Linked DNA regions of Homo sapiens. The protein of the gene in region 1 purifies or fractionates together with the protein of each later gene. This does not show direct contact. Each region holds a gene or a part of one and is shown on either strand. Other genes may lie near its edges.

Region 1 (5,287 bases):
TCAGTAACCAGTATTGAACACAGGTTGTGTGCCAAGCACCCTACTAAATTCTGGGGCTAACAAGAGAATAAGAAAGCCGTCTGACATCACTCTTATGGGGCAGTACTTACCCTTTCGTAGGTCTTAGAGGTTTCTAAGAATGTGATAAAAATGTGTACATGCACATATTCGTTTTTCATGATTTTAGAGGATTCACAGGTGAATCCTGTAAAGAGAGAAAGAAAATAAAAAACCATGTGTAATGCAGTGTGACTTATTACCTCATTACCTTATTAACCTCACTCTGCATGTATGTAATAAAGTATGTAATACAGAGTGAGGTAATAAGGCCAGCAGATGAAGAAGTAATTATGCTTGGGGCATTGAGTTAAAGGGGTGATAATTGTTTTGAAAGACCTCAAAGAATGAGAAAGAAAACTATTTGGAGGTGGAAGAGGTCACTGCAGGCAAAGGTAGTAAAAGAGAAGACAGTGTGCAAATGCCCACTGTGTTTCAGGTTGTAGCTAGTGGTCCTCTATGGCCAGAGTTCATGGAAAATAAGATGCTCAAGTTAAGGACCGCACAGTGCCTATTTAGAGTCTATGGTGTGTTGTTTTGTCACCTGAATTCTTGGTGCCTTCACATTGTTCAAAATAATTTGCTCAGGAAATGTCACTCTTAGACGTGGCTGGTGGGAGGGTAGATTGGTACAACTCTGGAGAGAGTCCAGCAATATTTCTCAAATTACACATACCGTCTAGCCCAGAAATTCCAATTGCTGGAATTTAGCTATTATTTTATATGTGCAAAGTGGCATATATATGCCATATAGATAAGGATAGTCATTTAGTATGACATAATAGAAAAAAGCTTGGAAGCATCCTATATATTTCATTAATGGTGATTAAGTAAAGTGTGTGATACAAGTGTAGAATGGAGTATTAAATTGCCTTAAAAAATGAAGTGTTCTGTATCTGTAAGATAAAGAATGAATCACCAAAATACATAAAATGACAAAACTGGCTGGGCATGTTGGCTCACGCCTGTAATCCCAGCACTTTGGGAGGCTGAGGCGGACAGATCACCTGAGGTCAGGAGTTTGAGACCAGCCTGGTCAACATGGTGAAACACCGTCTCTACTAAAAATACAAAAATTAGCTGGGTGTGGTGGCGTGCGCCTGTAATCTCAGCTACTTGGGAGGCTGAGGCAAAAGAATTGCTTGAACCCGGGAGGCGGAGGTTGCAGTGAGCCAATATCGTGCCATTGCACTCCAGCTTGGGCAACGAGTGAAACTCTGTCTCAAAAAAAAAAAAATTCAAAACTCAGTTGTATATTTTTATGCACATATGTGTACAATATCTCTTAAAGGACATATAAGAGACTGTTGTTTGCCTCTGGGAAGGGAATTGGGGTCTGCAGGGGAAGGGGTGGCAGGGAGAGTTTCTCTTCTCTGCATATTCTTTTTTTTTTTTTTTCTTTAACAACACTCTGTAGTCCAGTGCTGCATATTCTTGTAGCTTTTGAAGTTTAATATCTGTTACATAATTTTCTACAGAGCAGCAGTTTTTGAGCAATTGTTATTTTGTTTTTGTCTCATCCCATTGCTCCTCAACCTGGGTCAGATGGAGCAGCCTCTTCAGTAAGCACGAAACATGCTCTCATCATGGATGAAGTAGATGGCATGGCAGGCAATGAGGATAGGGGAGGAATTCAGGTAATTCAAGTGCTGTATTTTTGCAGTTTCACTGTTGATAATTTAGATTGTTAGAACATTGTCATTCTCTCATACTTAGGGCAGTTAAGGCATGTTGCTGAGGAGATTTTTAGAACCTAAAATAGCTTGTGTGGTATTTGTCATTTTTAAAATAATTATTTTTGTGTTGCAAACTTGCCTTTCAGGAATTAATTGGCCTGATAAAACATACTAAAATTCCCATTATTTGTATGTGCAATGATAGAAATCATCCCAAGATTCGCTCTCTGGTTCATTATTGTTTTGATCTTCGTTTTCAAAGACCTCGGGTTGAACAGATTAAGGTATGATGATTGAAATTTTTTTTCCATCACACTAGCCTATTTATTTAAGGGTCAATTTTTAAAAGTACCTGATAAATATTTTTAAAATACCTGATTATATGAGTTAAAAATCATTGAGGACTCCTCCCTTGTCAATTTCAGGGTGCTATGATGTCTATTGCATTTAAAGAAGGTTTAAAGATTCCCCCTCCAGCTATGAATGAAATAATTTTGGGAGCCAATCAAGATATCAGACAGGTAAATTAAATATATATCATGTAACAGTTGTTGATTATTTTTAACTAATGCTTTCAACCTTGTAGGGATGGGGAGCAACAGGATTTTCCTATCTTGACGTTGTCTTATTTGTGATTCTTTTAGGTTTTACATAATCTGAGTATGTGGTGTGCACGAAGTAAAGCATTAACCTATGACCAGGCCAAAGCTGATTCTCACAGAGCCAAAAAGGATATCAAAATGGTAAAATAAATGTCCATGTCTTAGTTACTTTCCTAAGCCAAAACACTTCTTGTTCTGTAGGTAGCTTGATAGAAGTAGTTATTATAGTTCCTTGGTATGCCTGTGGAATCCAGGGATATATAGTAGGAAGTATAGACAGCTGCTGAAAGTGTTTCTAATTCAAATGATTTTTTTCTCAAAGATTGTCAATGTCAATTATAAATTTTGAGAAAGGGATAAATTTTAAATTATACTTATGCTTCAACAATTATAAAATGGCTTTTCCAGAGTTCTTTATGTTTGGCTTTCGTGTTTGGAATGGTTTTGCACTGTTCAGAATAATCCATGTCAAATGGTTTAGTTTAATGACCTCTCTGAAACTAGAGGTATGTATCAGTTTCCTCTGTGTTGTATTTTACCTAGTTGCTAATCAGAATTTATAGTTAGAGCAATGATTAAGCAGGTTCTAAAAAAGTTAATACACTTTCTTATTTATTTAAATTTTCAAAATTTTTGGTAGAGACAGGGTCTCGCTATGTTTCCCCGACTGGTCTTGAATTCCTGGCCTCAAGTGATCCTCCTGCTGTGGCCCCCAAGGTGCCGGGATTATAGGTGTGAGCCACCACGTCTGGCCTATACGCTTTATTTTTTAGAGCAGTTGAGGCTCAGGAGTTTGAGACCAGCCTGGCCAACATGGTGATCCATGCCTGGCCTATGGATTAAAAATGGAGTGGAAGGTACAGAGAGTTCTCACATACTTCATGTCCCCCTCACACGCACAGCCTCTCCCACTGCCAACATCCCCCACCACAGTGGTATATCTGTTACAATCGATGAACCTACAGTGATACCTCATTATCACCCAGAGTCCGTAGTTGACATTAGCATTCCCTCTTGGTGTTGTACGTTGTGTGGTTTTGACAAATGACATGTATTCACCATTGTAGTATCATACAGAATAGTTTCACTGTCCTGAACATCCTCTGTGCTCTACCTGTTCATTCTTCCTTTCCGCTTTCCTCCCTACAACCCCTGGCAGCCACTGATCCTTTCACTGTGTCCATAGTTTTGCCTTTTCCAGAATGTGGTATAGTTGGAATCATGTAGTATGTGGACTTTTCCAGTTGGCTTTTTTCACGTAGTAATGGCATATAAGGTTCTTCCATAACTTTTTTGTTTTTGTTTTTGTTTTTTTTGGTTTTTTTTTTTTCGGAGTCTTGCTTTGTCACCCAGGCTGGAGTACAGTGGTGTGATCTTGGCACACTGTAGCCTCTGCCTCCCGGGTTCATGTGATTCTCTTGCCTCAGGCTTCTGAGTAGCTCGGGTTACAGGCACCTGCCACCACACCTGGCCAATTTTTTATTTTTAGTAGAGACGAGGTTTTACTATGTTGGCCAGGCTGGTCTCGAACTCCTGACCTCAAGTGATCCGCCCACCTCAGCCTCCCAAAGTGCTCGGATTACAGGGGTGAGCCACCATGCCCTGCCCCCCCATGTCTTTTCATGGCTTGATAGCTCACTTCTTTTTAATGTTGAATAATATTACATTGTGTGAATGTACCACAGTTAAATTGTTTATTTACCTACTAAAAGGACATCTTGGTTGCTTACAACTTTTGGTAATTATAAATAAAACTGCTTGTAAACATCCTGTGCAGATTTTTGTGTGAACATAGTTTCATTTGGGTGAATACCAAGAAGCGTGGTTGCTGGATCGCGTGGTAAGAGTATGTTTAATTTTGTAAGAAACTACCAAACGGTACAGTTTTGCATTCCCACCAGCAATGAATGGAATTCCTCTTGTTCCATATCCTCGTTAGCATTTGGTGATGTTACCGTTTTGAATTTTGGCCATTCTAATAGGTGTGTCCCTCTCTTTTTTCAGGGCCCATTTGATGTTGCCCGGAAAGTGTTTGCAGCTGGAGAGGAGACTGCTCACATGTCACTTGTGGACAAGTCAGATCTCTTTTTTCATGATTATTCAATAGCACCCCTCTTCGTCCAGGAAAATTACATACACGTGAAGCCTGTAGCAGCAGGGTGAGTGTCCAGAGCTGGTGAGAGGTGTGCTTAGTATCCAGCACTGCGAAGGCTAAATACCCGTGAAGAAGGGACCTGGGGTGTGGAGAGTGGGATAATCCAGACTGGTTCTTTCCTGCAGGGGTGACATGAAAAAGCACCTGATGCTTTTAAGCAGAGCAGCAGACAGCATATGCGATGGTGACCTAGTGGACAGCCAGATCCGGAGTAAGCAAAACTGGAGTCTTCTGCCTGCGCAGGTGAGCAGAGGGCTCTCCCTAACATGCAGGCTCTGCTTTTACTAAGAGAACTAAATAGCTTTTAGCTGCTGTACTTATTTTATTTTATTTTGTTTACTTTATTTTTGAGATCGAGTCTCGCTCTGTTGCCCGGGCTGGAGTGTAGTGGTATGATCTCGGCTCACTGGAGCCTCTGCCTCCCGGGTTCAAGAGATTCTCCTGCCTCAGCCTCCTGAGTAGCTGGGACTACAGGTGCCCGCCACCATACCCAGCTAATCCTGTAGTTATTTTAAATACCAGATAAATGTTATGGCTCTTGTGGCAAAAATATAGTCTGTTACAGATTATAATACTCTGTGGTAACTATCGTCTGTTTCCTAATCTGGCCTTATTTTTCTTTTTTCTTTCTTTCTTTTTTTTTTTTTTTTTTTGAGACAGTGTTGCTGTGTTGCCCAGGCTGGAGTGCCGTGGCGTGATCTTGGCTCACTGCAAGCTCCGCCTCCTGGGTTCATGCCATTCTCCTGCCTCAGATTCCTGGGTAGCTGGGACTACAGGCGCCCGTCACCACGCCCAGC
Region 2 (4,393 bases), on another chromosome or scaffold:
GGGACTACAGGCTCCTGCCACTGTGCCCAGCTAAATTTTGTATTTTTAGTAAAGACTGGGTTTCGCCATGTTGGCCAGGCTGGCCTAGAACTCCTAGCCTCAGGTGATTCACCCACCTCAGCCTCCCAAAGTGCTGGGATTACAGACATGAGCCACCACACTGGCCTAAAACTTATCTTTAATGGCATTCACATTGCAGAGTAAATGATCTTACCAATAGATCATTTAAAGTCATAGTAGCTACATGTTTTAAGATATTTCATTTTATTTTGCTATAAATATCTTGCTTTGTGGCATATGTAAAATAATAGATAAAATAGATTTATTATATATAAAATAATAGAACATGTTAAAGTTTGGTTTTGGTTTTGGTTTGTTTTTTTGGTTTTTTTTGTTTTGTTTTGTTTTGTTTTGAGACACGGTCTCACCCTGTCACCCAGGCTGGAGTACGGTAACGTGACCACAGCTCACTGCAGCCTTGACCTCCTGGTCTCAAGTGACCCTTCTACCTCAGCCTCCTGAGTAGCTGGGACTAAAGGCATGCGCCACCACGCCCAGCCAATTTTTTAATTTTTGCAGAAACAAGGTCTCACTATATTGCCCAGGGTGTTCTTGAACTCCTAAACTCAAACTATCCTCCCACTTCAGGCTCCCAAAATGCTGAGATTACAGGTGTGAGCCACTACATCCAGCCTACAAATTTTTTTTTTTTTTTTTGAGACGGAGTCTTGCTCTGTTACCCAGGCTGGAGTGCAGTGGCGCTATCTTGGCTCACCACAACCTCCGCGTCCCGGGTTCAAGCAATTCTCCTGTCTCAGCCTCCCAAGTAGCTGGGATTACAGGCACTTGCCACCACACCCGGCTAATTTTTGTATTTAGCCAGGCGTGTTGGCAGGTGGAAACAGGGTTTCATCATATTGGTCAGGCTGGTCTCGAACTCCTGACCTCAGGTGATCCGCCCGCCTCAGCCTCTCAAAGTGCTGGGATTACAAGTGTGAGCCACTGCGTCCAGCCCTAGAAATGTTTTAATTATAATTATGCATCACTTAACAATAAGGATACATCCTGAGAAATACATCACTTTGCAAAAGTCATGGAGTATACTTACACAGACCCAGATGGTATAGCCTACTATACATCTAGGCTATATGGTATAACCTATTGCTCCTAGGCTACAACCTGTACAGCATGTTACTGTACTCAATACTGTAGGCAATTGTAACACAATGATAGGTACTGATGTAGCTAAACATACCTAAACATAGAAAAGTCACAGTAAAAATACAGTATTGCAATCTTATGGGACCCACCATCTTTTTCTTTTTTTTTTGAGATGGAGTCTCGCTCTTGTCACCCTGGCTAGAGTGCAATGATGCGATCTCGGCTCACTGCAACCTCTGCCTCCCGAGTTCAAGCGACTCTCCTGCCTCAGCCTCCCGAGTAGCTAGGATTACAGGCATGCGCCACCATGCCCAGCTAATTTTTTGTATTTTTAATAGAGATGGGATTCAGGCTGGTCTTGAACTCTTGACCTCAGGTGATCCACCCACCTCAGCCTCCCAAAATGCTGGGATTACAGGTGTGAGCCACCGTGCCCACCATCTTATATGCAGTCCATCATGACTAAAATGTCGTTATGCTGCACATGACTGTATTTATATTGTATACCTGAAGTTCTTTTTTAATGATTTATTTTTCAGGGTGGTCAAGACGTTAAAAAGAAAGTTCACCTAAGTGAAAAAATTCACCCTTTTATCAGGTCTGTTGGAAAAGTCTCCAAGCACTTTAAGGTGTCTGATTTACCGGCATGTGCCTTTAGAGTTACCTTGCTATCAATTTTCACTGCTGGGTAGCATTTTATAATAATAATAGCTATGGTTAATTGAGTGCCTATTTTATGCTGCAGTATTCCTAAAAGGTGCTTTACAGATGTTCTCATTGCTCTTCAAAAAAACCCCACAAGAGACTTGATGGTATCTCCATTTATAGATAAGGAAAATGAGTTTTAGAGAGATTTTATAATGAGCTTGGCATCACACGACAAGTTAGTTGTTAAATTTAGGATTCATGCCCTGGTCTGCCTGACTGTAAAGCCTACTCCAATGCTTTTTCCACTGAATTCACTACTTCTCTAGGATAGTGGAAAAAGCCTTATATTAGGAGTAAAAATTCCTATTCTGCCACTTACTATGATCTTGATAAAATATTGACAAAATATTGCTGCCTCCATTTCCTTATCTCTATGATGGGGAGAACAGCATGCACTCTACCTGTCTCACAGTTGTATCAATGATTAAGTGAAAGAGTAAATGTGATGCATATTTGTAAACTGCAAACATTATATGATTGTTGAGATATTAATACAAGCAATTCACAGTGGAAAGTGTAGGCTGCATCCCACATTCTACTACTGATGTATTATGGTGTCCTGGGTTGGTTACTTTCTACCCTTATTGCGTATATTAACCTTCTAAGTTGTGAGGTTTAAAAAGTAAACATTTCTTGTATACCCATTCTGTGCCAGGTTCTATGTCAGGTTCTTTTCCCTTAAAAGTGTCTCATTTAATTATCATAACCCTGCACAGGGTAGTATTCCCATTTTACCTAGTTAAGTTCTGAAAATGTCATGAAAATAAGCAGTAGTTTTCCCCACAATGGCAGCAATACCTATGTGGCATATGTGTTACTGATAGTGTTGGGACTCTGTTGTTATTGTTGTTCTTACAGAAAATCTATAAACATAATAAAAAAATACTTTGAAGAATATGCCTTGGTTAATCAAGATATTCTCGAAAATAAAGAAAGCTGGGATAAGATTTTAGCCCTTGTTCCTGAAAATATCCTTTCCCGTGATCATTTCTGTGTGAGCTAGTTGTTTTGATCTGTGATATTATAAATGTTAGACATGTCTGCTTGTAAGTTCTCATATACTTATAAGTTTAATCTTTTTTACACAAAATATCTCCTGTATTTCTGGATTTTAGTATCTCTGGTCTGGAACATAATAAAAAATGGGGCCATGTTGCAAATCAGTTTTCTCATTTTGGAAGTTGGTCCTAGAATTAACAGCTAAAGAATGGTGAATTACATAGTCAAAATACATGCAGACCAGGGAAAACTTTACATCATACCTTATAGTTATTTTGGCATTCTTTCTGTTATATCATCACTGTATTTTTACAGGGGAAGATTTCAATGATACAACTGGTGTTGGTTTGGTTTGGGGTTTTTTTGTTGTTGTTGTTGTTTTTAAGACGGAGTCTTATACTGTGTTGCCCAGGCTGGAGTGTGCAGTGGTGTGATCTTGGCTTACTGCAACCTCCGCCTCCCGGGTTCAAACAATTCTCCTGCCTCAGCCTCCCAAATAGCTGGGACTGCAGGCACACGCCACCACGCCCAGCTAATTTTTGTGTTTTTATAGAGACGGGGTCTCACCATGTCAGCCAAGCTGGTCTCAAATGATCCACCCACCTCAGCCTCCCAAAATATTGGGAATACAGGCATGAGCCACTGTGCCCGGCCGGATACAGCTGTTGAGTTTAACATTTGTGGGGTGGGTTGTTTTGTTGTTGAGATGGAGTCTCACTCTGTTGCCCAGGCTGTAGCACAGTGGCACAATCTCAGCTCACTGCAACCTTCACCTTGCAGATTTAAGCAATTTTCCTGCCTCAGCCTCCAGAGTAGCTAGGATTACAGATGTGCACCACCATGCCCTGCTGATTTTTCTATTTTTAGTAGAGATGGGGTTTCACCATGTTGGCCAGGCTGGTCTCGATCTCCTGACCTCACGTGATCCACCCACCTCTGCCTCCCAAAGTGCTGGGAGTACAGGCATGAGCCACCACGCCCAGTCAACATTTATATTTCAAGAAATGTTAATAACTACTTTCTGAATATTTGTAAGACACCCTTGTGGTAATACATACTTAAAACTAAATTGTTCATTGATGTTCCCTAAATGAGTCTGTTCCTTAATGACCCATCACCAATTCATGATGAACTTCAACAAAGCTTCCAAAAGTCTCACAATTCACTTCAGCGTTGGGAGCACTTGAAGAAAGTAGCCAGCAGATATCAGGTATATGCCACTGAAATCTGTATTACAGATATAATAATGCAATTCTTAATTAAATTGATTGCTTTGCCTAGTCAGTTAAAGATGGTTGAAGATCGTTTTTTTAACTTTCTTTAAAGAAATCTTCAACAGTTCCTACTGATCCTCATGTTGGCCTTGTATCTGCTTTTAGAATAACATCAAAAATGACAAATATGGACCCTGGCTGGAGTGGGAGATTATGCTCCAGTACTGTTTTCCACGGCTGGATATCAATGTCAGCAAAGGAATCAATCATCTACTGAAGAGCCCTTTTAGTGTTCATCCTAAAACAGGTAC

Evidence for each region. Proteins that work in one complex are often made in the same cells at the same time.
Region 2: the proteins of RFC1 (region 1) and PRIM1 fractionate together in Homo sapiens (co-fractionation; one large-scale study listed by BioGRID). This does not show direct contact.

What each region holds. Positions count from the first base shown.
Region 1 is NC_000004.12:39,299,467-39,304,753, reverse strand, and holds part of RFC1 (replication factor C subunit 1), read left to right. Parts: intron 1-1,602; coding exon 1,603-1,694; intron 1,695-1,879; coding exon 1,880-2,017; intron 2,018-2,158; coding exon 2,159-2,254; intron 2,255-2,377; coding exon 2,378-2,476; intron 2,477-4,339; coding exon 4,340-4,494; intron 4,495-4,615; coding exon 4,616-4,733; intron 4,734-5,287. UniProt on the Homo sapiens protein: Subunit of the replication factor C (RFC) complex which acts during elongation of primed DNA templates by DNA polymerases delta and epsilon, and is necessary for ATP-dependent loading of proliferating cell nuclear antigen (PCNA) onto primed DNA.
Region 2 is NC_000012.12:56,741,431-56,745,823, reverse strand, and holds part of PRIM1 (DNA primase small subunit), read left to right. Parts: intron 1-1,700; coding exon 1,701-1,759; intron 1,760-2,727; coding exon 2,728-2,837; intron 2,838-3,986; coding exon 3,987-4,078; intron 4,079-4,247; coding exon 4,248-4,389; intron 4,390-4,393. UniProt on the Homo sapiens protein: Catalytic subunit of the DNA primase complex and component of the DNA polymerase alpha complex (also known as the alpha DNA polymerase-primase complex - primosome/replisome) which play an essential role in the initiation of DNA synthesis.